2 separate regions of the Homo sapiens genome follow, and region 1 is linked to region 2. Evidence: fine-mapped expression QTL. A gene starts in region 2. The other region holds a variant in brackets. All regions are shown on one strand. Distances are from middle to middle.

Region 1 (5,385 bases), 670 kb before region 2:
GAAAGAAAGAGAAAGAGAAAGAGAGAGAGACAGAGGGAGGGAGGGAGAGAGGGAGGGAGGAAGGGAGGAAGGAATTAATTCAAAAGCAGCGGGTTGAAAAGTAGGGATTTAAAAAAAAAAAGCATGCCACAGAAAAGCTTTATTAGAGGCTAATACCTTTTGATGAAGGAACTATACATCTAGAAATTAGGCCCTGAATTTGTAGGTCATTTGTCAGATTCTTCTTAGATATTAAATCCCTAATGTGAATTAGTTTTTCAGATTAGCTAGTTACCCCAAAATAGCAGTGTCAATAAGGAAAGAAGAGGTTTGAGGGCATTTCATCTTTTAACCCGGAAAGGTCAGACCCTTGCCAAGCTTCTTGGTGAGAATGGGTGAGAATAAATCATGAAAAGAAGACAAGAGGTAGAACAAAGGAAAAACATAAAACCAACCAGTTATACATCTTAGCTTGTTCTCTAATTCTGCCCTTCTAACTATGCCACCCACTCAAAGCCTTTATCCTAAGCTTTTTCCAGTCCTAAGGGCGCTTTCATTTCTGTCACCTTCTCCCTTTACCATCTTTCCACCAAGAACATCCTGTTATTAACCATCACAACGAATCTGCTTTCTTTTCCAGCACTGATCTCTCCGATCTTCTCCTCCCTACACTGTTGACTGGGTATGGAAGTTAGAACTAGGTTACTGATAACACTAGGAGCTGCGGGCCTGGAAATCCTGAGTTCAGCCCAGTGACAGTCTGTGGCCTGGGATTCCTCCTGGGCCCAAGCAAAGAGAACTATTCACTCCACAGCTGCCAGAGGCTTTTTTTTTTTTTTTTTTTAATACTTGAGAACATTTAAGTTGTTGTGATGGTTAATATTGAGTGTCAACTTGATTGGATTGAAAGATGCAAAGTATCGCTCCTGGGTGTGTCCATGACGGTGTTGCCAAAGGAGATTAACATTTGGGTCAGTGGACTGGGAAAGGCAGACCCACCCTCAATCTGGATGGGCACAATCTAATCAGCTGCCAGCACAACCAGAATAAAAGCAGGCAGAAGAACTTGGAAAGACTAGACTGGTTTAGTCTTCTGGCCTACATCCTTCTCCCGTACTGGATGCTTCCTGCCCTCGAACATTGGACTCCAAGTTCTTCAGCTTTGGGACTCAGACTGCCTTCCTTTCCCCTCAGCTTGCAGACGGCCTATTATGGGACCTCAGCTTGTGATCGTGAGTCAGTACTCCTTAATAAACTCCCTTTTATATATACATCTATCCTATTAGTTCTGTCCCTCTAGAGAACCCTGACTAATACAATTGTGTTACAGGGTGGGCTTTGGCCAAAACAAAACAAAACAGAACATGGAGTAGGAAGACAGAATAGGGTCTCTGCCTGCCCACATGGGAACAGGTTTCCCCTTGGTCATCTACTGGGCATGGTACAAAGGCCATGTGGATTCCCTGGCCTCTGAACAGAATGCAGTGGCACTCCCACGCTGGAGGCTGAAGTACAGAGTTATGCAGAGGAAGAAAATTTCTTGGAAGAGAGAAAATTTCCAAATTAAGGTACATTTGAAACACTCGAGGCCATGAATCATAAACTTCAATATTGAAAAACCTCAACTGAAATCACATGAGTCATAAAAGGAGTTCTCATATTTAGATAAGGATTATCTGGCTTCCAAGCATCCTCTTTCCCCAAATTCAATCAGTTCTCCACGCTATCGCTTTAAAACCAGGCCCAAGTTTTCACCTTTTAGCACCTTCCCTAATTCTAAGGATTTTATAATTTTTCCAAAAATCTATTTGACTTAAGGGCAGAAATGCTACTTTATTTATACATTGTTTATACTCTCTTCTACTTCTAAAATTACTTTGAGAGATCACATCCACTGAGCGCTGTGGCTTTTTGAACTTGTTAACCCTTTCCTAGATGTTAAGGTACACTTATGGTATAGCAAGTGACATGAAGAGAGGAACAGCTTGTTGTTGCTATTGTTTTCAAGGAAGTGAATGAAGCATCAATACACCACCTCAGAATGACCATAAAAGAGCGTTCAATGTATATGAGCCTCACGTTACAACTTGGCCACACACTGCTAGTGGGTATATAAATAATACAAGTTATCTGGAAAGCAATTTGACAGCATGCGTTGGGAACCCTAACAATGTTCACGTACAGCCTGTAGCCCAGCACATAGATTTTAGAGATCCAGTTTAAGATAAGAAACAAGACGTTATCCCATTTTTTTTTTAATATAGCAAAGGTACCTAAAACAACCTAAACCACACAAATAAGGAAATGATTACATAAATTATTGGACATCCA[C/T]GTGCCATCTGCCTGGTTATGTCTCTAAGGCCATACATAATGCTTGATACATGCTAAGATCTCAGTAAATATTTAATAAATTTATGATCAAATGAAATAAAATGTAGCTAGGAAAATGTTTTCAAAGAATATTAAAGTGTATGAGGAAATAAGCATGATTCTATCTTTTCAAAAATAGTAAAAAGATTGAAAGGAAATATACTAATGCTGACAAAGGTCAACTCTAATTAATTTCAGTAATTTTTTCTTATTAACATTTCCACTCTGGAAACTGTTCTGCTTATGTCCTGAATGAATGGACATGATCTGTATTTCAAAGTCAGCTAATCTGTGATTTATTTCAAATCAATTCAATTATGCTTATGTAATTTATGTACATAAGCCTATGTAACTCCATTCACACAGTACCTTCAGGAAAAATATATTATAGAGATTAATTCTCAGTCTTTTACCACATCAGGCAATTGAGTTAAGGATATTTTAGCACCCCCTTCAAAGAATCATGAAAGATATCCATTAATCTTCAAAATGCCTTACATAATTAGGAAAATGAAAAGTTTCTGATTTTCCACATTCACAAAATAAACATTTACTTACTCATATTGATCTAAGTTGTTTGATTTCTTTCCCGTTACGTAATTACTTGGGATATATCCTTCATTCCTAGAAATAAGAAAAATACTTTAGGTAAACTTACTTTACTGGGAGGTTATTGAAAGAAAGAAAGATTATTGCCTTTTGAAATAAAGCATGACATTGCTTAAAGCTTATTATAAGAAAGACTAGCTGACCCCCCAAAATGCAGTATCTGTAATTCACTTGACATTTTACAAAGTACTTTCACTTTTGGTCTCCATAAAAATTCTGCGGTAGGCAGGCATTATTGTACCTATTTTCTGGTGGGGAAACTAAAGCTTAGAAAGGTTATAGGATTTTTTTTCCCAAAGGTCCTAAAGTTAGCCAGCAACAGGGCCAGAACTCAAACTCTGGACTTGTGACTAGCTCCTGTGCTCCTCCAACATTCCACAATACTTCTCCAGAATTCACAGTTTTGCTGATATGTGTTAAAGAAACCATTACTTGAGAAAAGTCAAAGTGTTGGATTAAAAATACCCACCACTCTAATACCTCAATAGTTCTTATAGAATAGTTTCACAAAGGATAATTCCTGGCCTTTCGGTCAGTATCATTTGGGGCACCTGTTAAAACAGCAAATTCTTGGGTCATAACCCAATAAATGTGAACTGAGAAGACCTATGTGAGGTCAAAAAATGTCCGATTTTACCCCAAATGACTTTCACACACATCACAATTTAAGATGCACTCTTATGTAAGTAGGAGCTAAGGTTTTCAGCATAAGAAAACAGATATACATATAAAATTTAAAAATTGAGTAGAAACCTTATAATCTTAAATTTGAATTTAAAGTATTAGTAAGAACTCATAATACACACACACACACACAAATGTGTGCATACAGGTAGCTCTGTTGCACTGAGAAAGGCCCAGAAGGAACGGCAATCCAGCAGCAGTTAAGATCTTAGCATTGCCACTGTCTCTAAATACCATTTGTGACTAAAAGGAGCCAGTCCCCCTTAGAAAAATGTCAAATTGTGTCCAGGTGCAGTGGCTCACGCCTGTAATCCCAGCACTTTAGGAGGCCAAGGCAAGCAGATCACTTGAGGCCAGGAATTCAAGACCCGCCTGGCCAACATGGCGAAACCCTATCTCTACTAAAAAATACAAAAATTAGCTGGGCGTGGTGGAACATGCCTATAATTCCAGCTACTTGGGAGGCCGAGGCACAAGAATCACTTGAACCTAGGAGGCGGAGGTTGAAATGAGCCGAGATCACGCCACTGCACTCCAGCACTCCAGCCTGCGAGACAGAACGAGACTCCATCTCAAAAAAAAGAAAGAAAAAGAAAAGAAAAGAAAAATGTCAAATTGTAAGTTTGGCCAGAAAAATAAATACAAGATAACTTGAGCCATTTCACTGAGCCAGAAAGTAGGAAAGAAAAACTAACAGGATCCTCTACCAAAAACAGCCACCATCGACCTAATTTGGCCAATTCAAGCAAAGAGAATAATGGTGGCAATGGATTGGAACCAAATATATAAGTATCCATAATAACACTAAAAATAAACTGTTGGTTACCATTGTTATCACTAGAGAAAGCTCAGTCATCAACTCATTATTCTGAAAACTAGTAAAAGTTTAAGAATCCAAATTTCATCTTTCCTTTCCTTCATGAACTAAATGAACTGGTATATGAGGCAGTTCTTCTTTAGAGAACTACTAAATGCAGATGGAATGACAAAATTAGGAAATCACCATTTTGTAACCCCTAATGAAATAATGACTCTAAGAAAGAATCATTAATGAACCCCCAAATCATCAGGGTAAATACCAATGAAGAACTTTATGACAGAGGAACAAGTCTGACACCTGAACCACTAAGCAATCTTAGCATTACTAAAAGTAGGACATCCAGAGATCACCTTCTAATGTGATCAAGCCTCTAGCTCTACTCGCCAGTTCACAAGAAATACAAGAAACACAGGCATATTAAGTGACACCACAAGAAAACAATCTGTTTCATCTAGATTATGGCTCATTTTAGTGTTAAATGACCTGCTTTCATCAATAAATCAAAAATGTAGAATAAGAGAAACATAAGAGATATATTAACCAAAATGCAGTGTGTGGGTCCTGATTTGAATAAACCAACAGTAAAAATAAGTATTAGAGCTAATCGGGGAAACTGGAATTACATAATTGGTTCCATCCTTAGACCTGGGCCAGAGAAGCTCTTGCTCTAACCCCACACTTTTGAGAGCTCTGCAAAAGTGCGTGTTCCCTCTGACCTGTGTTCCCATGCTCCTTTCTGGGTAACTAGGACCCCAGAACACCCTGCTCATTTCCAAGGTCTACATGGGCCTTCTACTGGGTCCATCTTCTAAAAAACAAATTGTGCTGGCTGGCCATGTGCATTCCCTTTCACTGAGGCTGAAGGTGTGGCCATGATGCGGGGTAGCTTTTGCAAGCCACGCAGTAAGAGTGTGGGTGTACAG
Region 2 (5,385 bases):
GGACCAATCAACTCTCTGTACAATGGACCAATCAGCAGGATGTGTGTGGGGCCAGATAAGGGAATAAAAGCAGGCCTCTTGAGCCAGCAGCGGCAACCCACTCAGGTCCCCTTCCACACTGTGGAAGCTTTGTTCTTTTGCTCTTTGCAATAAATCTTGCTGCTGCTCACTCTTTGGGTCTGCACCACCTTTATGAGCTGTAACACTCACTGTGAAGGTCTGCAACTTCACTCCTGAGGCCAGTGAGACCATGAACCCACCTGGAGGGATTAACAACTCCAGACGGGAGGAATGAACAACTCCAGATGCACCGCCTTAAGAGCTGTAACACTCACTGCGAAGGTCTGCAGCTTCACTCCTGAAGCCAGCAAGACCACGAACCCACCAGAAGGAATAAACTCCGAGCATGTCCGAACATCAGAAGGAACAAAGTCTGGACACACCATCTTTAAGAACTGTAACGCTCACCGTGAGGGTCCGCAGCTTCATTCTTGAAGTCAGTGAGACCAAGAACCCACCAATTTAGGACACACTATGTGTTAGGCCTGGCTCAGTAAGTATAAAGAATATGATAAAACTGGATTCTGGAATCTTACAATCTAGTCAGGAAGCAAAGAAAAAGACTTTGCTTTAAAGTTGGTGCAGTGGCTCATGCCTATAACCCCAGCACTTCGGGAGGCCAAAGTGGGCAGATCACTTGAGGCCAGGAATTGGAGACCAGGCTGGTAAAGTAGTGAAACTCTGTCTCTTCTACAAATAAAAAAATTAGCTGGGCGTGGTGGTGCACACCTGTGGTCCCAGCTACTCAGGAGGCTGAGGCACAAGAATTGCTTGAATCTGGGAGGCGAAGGTTGCAGTGAGCCGAGATGGCACCACTGTACTACGGTCTAGACAATAGAGCAAGGCCCTGTCCTAAAAAAAAAAACAACAAAAAACTTTGCTTTAACATAAAGCTCACCACCTAGAATGTCTTCTAATTTTTTTATTTTTGTTTCTTCTAGAATGTCTTTTAATTTTCTTATTTTTGTTTTTTCTCCTATAAAAATGCATTCAACAAATTCATTTAAGAAATATTTGTTGGCTTCATATGATCATGTGCCAATCACTGATGCTAGGCAAATACGGCTCCTACTGTCATAGACCTTTTTAGTGAAGAGAGACAATACACAAACAAATCATTGTTTTAGACCATAACAAATACTATGAAAACAATAAGCAAGGTAACATGGAGAGTGACTGGGGTGCCATGTTAATTGGGTGGTCAAGGAATGCCTCTCTGATGTGGTGACATCAACTGAAGTCTCAGACAAAAAGCCACGTTGAACATCTGGAAGAACAGTGGTCTAGAAGAGGGAACAGCAATTGCACAAGCCCTGGGCCCAGAAGTAAATTAGCTTGTCCCAGGAACAAAATGAGTATTAGTTACTAATACTGATTATCTCAGGGATTTATTTGGTTCTATAAAGACTTACAAGCCAACATCTCTGTCCTAAAGGAGCTCTGTAACAGAGACAGACGTAAGTAAAAAAGATCACTATTCAGTGCAAAAGTACATTGCAGTGACAGCAGTATGGACAAGCTAAGGACTAAGAAGGAAGAGTGATTACTTCTCTGGGGTGTATTTCAGGGAAGGCATCACAAAGGTGGTGATGTAAAAGCAGAATTTTGAAATATCGTTAGAATTGACAAAGCAGGGAGTAGAGTTGTACTGGGGAAACAGTGCACAGAGAACACTGAGGGCAAAGACCTCCAGGCTGTTTCTTGTTAGTGAACCCTGAAATAGAAGAAAGTGACGCTCAAAAGGCACAGGCACCACCAGGCCATGATGGGCCTTATATTCGGTGCATGACTGGAGCTATCAAAAGACTCCAAGGAAGGAAACACAGCGTTGGATTCGTTTCACGTGACTGTCTCCCTTAAGTATGTCTTCGGGAGAATAAATGTTAAATGATAAAGTGGCAAAGGGGCTCAGAAAGAGATGAGAAACCTGAGAGGCTTTGAGGGGTTGACAAATAGTAGGACTGGATTTGCCCACTGTTTAGTCACTAATAACTTGCAGTACATGGCACTAATAAATACTTCAGGAAGGAATGTATGAAAATGAGTAAAATGCTGATTGGCTGGGTGTGGCAGCACCATGTCTGATGTGTAGAAGTCGTGAGCCCCCTCATTAATAGACAGTGATGTGTTGTTTTAATTCTAACAACCCTATATGTAATTCCACTTTTCAGGTGAGAAAAACCGTAGCCTCAGAGAGATCACGGTACCCTGCCAGAGGTTGTAGAACTTGTTGGAAACTTGGATCAAGAGGGTGTGACAAATAACCAGGTATGCATGCTTAAAAATTACTTTCTACTACTTAGCCTACAGGCTCAAAGAATGAAATTATCTCATAAAAGAGATAATTTATAAAGTCGCTCTCAAAAGAGGGACAACAGAGGGTTCCGGAACGTTCCCGCCAGCCGCCACGAGAAGACCAGAGAGGTGCATCACAACAGCCCAAAGTCAAGCCTACTCCCAACCCCCTTCCCCGCCATCCAGGGAAGGGGCGGGGCAGGGTTCTTGGTCCGCCGCTGTCGCCTGCGCAGTCGCAGTGCGGCTCGTGGCCGCAGCTGCCTGAAAGGGCAAAGGGACGAGTATACGCATGCGTCTATTCCTAGGCTGCTGGCTCTCAGACCCGCAGTGAGGTCTGACGTCATTTCCTGCCGTAAGTATACAGTGCCTCCGGGTCGCGGTCATTTTGAGCCCCTGTCTGGATGACTTCTTGCGGCTGTTCTACCCCTCCCCCTCCCCGCGGTACCTTGCACTTTTCTCCCTCCCTGCCCCCTCTCGAGTCCACCCTCCGGGCCTTCTGCCCCTGATCGCTTGGTTTTCCTTGCAGTCGCCTGCTGCTGTCGTCGGGAGGTGGGTGAGGTGACGCAAACAGCCCCGTTGTTGCCCTCCGCGTATCCCCTCACCACCTTTGCGGCCATCCACGACTTTCGCACCTTCCGCCATTTTCCTGCCTGTGAGGGTGGACAGATCGCGCTCGGGTCTCGGCCTCCTGAGTGCCGGTGACTGCGGGAGGCGACGGAGTGCTTCTGGGGGTGTGAGCTGGGGAAGTTCGTGGTCACGGATGCGTGTGGGGTTGCTGCTCAGTCTGTAACGGCAGGTGGGAGACGGACACTGGGTGGAGGATGGAGTGCGGTAATCAGCGGTTGTAGGCCGCTTAGGCTTTAATCCAGCGTTGTTTTGTGTAAAGAACTTAAAATGGTATTGTCTTAAGCGCCGTGTCAGCCCTGACAGTCTTCCTGGTGTTTCTAGGAAGGATGCCGTTATGGGAAATAAGAGGGTTTCATTTTTTCTCATACGGTTGTAGGGTAAAGGTAGTTTATTCAGCAGGCTCCATCCATCCATGAATTCAGCTGACCTTTTTTATTTCTTTTCTCTAATTAAGGGGTTGGCATGTAGTAGGCCTTCATGGCTTATTGACTGAATGAATTATGGAAGGGCTCAGTTGCTGTCCTCATTGTGTATGCCATTTCCTGTTTCCATGCAAATTGTTTTTAAAATGAGAATAATCATGATCCCACGTAAACGTTCTGTAAAATACGGTTACTTGATCTGTTGGTCTGAGTCCCAATATATGAGTTTTTAAAAAAAGAACCAAATAAAAAATGTATATTCTTGGAATTTTATGCATTTTTTTCTTATATTCTTGGGGTGGAAGGAAATTTGGAGATACAGAATTTGCTGTTAGTTTTACCTCACAGGGAGAAGGATATGTCGTCTTTGTTATTCCATAATTTTGGAGTGCTCCTTTGTGGGAGAGGTTGAATGTTTCTGATGATTATTTCATTTTTTAATATGGAAGCTCAGAAATGACTTGAAATTTTTTTTCTCTTCTATTTTGGGGAATTATCCTAATCATTGGGCATAGATTCGAGAAACGACCAAAACATAGGATGTGAAAGAACCCACTTCCAGGAGGAAAAAATATGTCTGTTATTTTATTGATATCTTGATAGTAAAAAAAATTATAAACTTATAAAACGCATATGCTTTTTCAATTAAGGGACTTAACCTGAATAGTGAGTTCCAAATTAATCAGTAGGTCTGTTACTTTTTCATCTAGCTATTTACATGTGGAGTACGTAAGATATAGTAGTGTTTAATAAATATTTGTTGATTGATTGCTGTGTAGACTAGTAGTTTTACTATATCATACGTCTTGATTTACTTTGACCTATCTAGTGATAGTTTCTAATACTTAATATGTAATGTTTTTGATACAGGAAAGATGAATGGGAGGGCTGATTTTCGAGAGCCGAATGCAGAGGTTCCAAGACCAATTCCCCGTAACTATCTATTAAGTATTTATAATTAGAAGCACTTCCTATGTAAAGGAATTTTCACTGCCTTGAGTAACAGTGGCAGGTGGGCTGGCTTCATGGGCATGTGCAGACAGCGCCCCATACTTGGTTTCATGTTCTAGTCTTGTTATCTTGAAATTCATAATCATTTGGATAAGGAGTCCCACGTTTTTATTTTGCACTGGGCCCAGCACATTAGGTAGCCAGTCCTGACTAGCAGATAGTAGCATTAATTCTATTTGAAGTCAAAGTTTGTTGAAAGTGTATAAGTGGCCTGGCTCGGTGGCTCATGCCTGTAATCCCAGCACTTTGGGAGGCTGAGATGGGTGGAACACCTGAGGTCAGGAGTTCGAGACTAGCCTGGCTAACATGGTGAAACCCCGTATCTACTAAAATACAAAAAATTAGCCTGGCGTGGTGATGGGTGCCTGTAATCCCAGCTACTCGGAAGGCTGAGGCAGGAGAATCGCTTGAACCCCGGGAGGTGGAGGTTGCAGTGAGCCGAGATCGCGCCATTGCACTCCAGCCTGGGCAACAAGAGTGAAACACTGTCTCAAAAAACAAAAAAAGTGCATAAGCCAGTTGTTTTATTATTTGAGTTTAAAAAATGGGTGCCTCTTGTTAATGTTTAGGCTAAGATAATTTTTCAGACCTAGTTTTATTATGGATAATTTAATGTTTTCTGATTTTCCCTGGTAAAAAGACATAGGGCCTGATTACATTCCAACAGAGGAAGAAAGGAGAGTCTTCGCAGAATGCAATGATGAAAGCTTCTGGTTCAGATGTGAGTTCAATTTTCTAATTAATATAATTTGATCCAAAATTTGTACCTGAAATTTTGACTTGAATTTGAACCTGAAATTATAATAACTCCGTATAGAACAAATTGGCAAACTTTTTGCATAGTGTGGTTGTTGTTAAAAGAGATTAAGGAGATAAAGGAATTGCACACATTTTAAAGTAATTATTTCCAGATTTTTAACAAAACCATGAGGTAATTTTGTTGATAATAGTAATAGTTAGCATTTACTGT

Which allele goes with the higher level. Positions count from the first base shown, and alleles are read on the strand shown. Sizes are in standard deviations (SD) of each study's normalised expression.
With allele C in place of T in region 1, the expression in spleen of the gene that starts at base 2,743 in region 2 is higher (large effect, 1.1 SD a copy in GTEx).

Evidence for each region. PIP is the estimated chance that this variant, and not a neighbour inherited with it, causes the effect.
Region 1: its variant is fine-mapped to the expression of OCIAD1 in spleen (GTEx, PIP 0.95).

The regions. Positions count from the first base shown.
Region 1 is chr4:48,160,795-48,166,179 of GRCh38, forward strand. TEC (tec protein tyrosine kinase) reads right to left here. Exons shown (of 18, transcript NM_003215.3): 8 at 2,908-2,973. Among named protein-coding and RNA genes, the nearest start is that of TXK, 29 kb to the left of the region's middle. The variant C/T (reference allele first, on the strand shown) is at 2,311.
Region 2 is chr4:48,828,346-48,833,730 of GRCh38, forward strand. OCIAD1 (OCIA domain containing 1) reads left to right here and starts at 2,743. Exons shown (of 9, transcript NM_017830.4): 1 at 2,743-2,904; 2 at 4,275-4,337; 3 at 5,056-5,136. The coding sequence starts at 4,280. RefSeq lists enhancers at 2,311-2,690, 2,533-3,096, 3,097-3,659.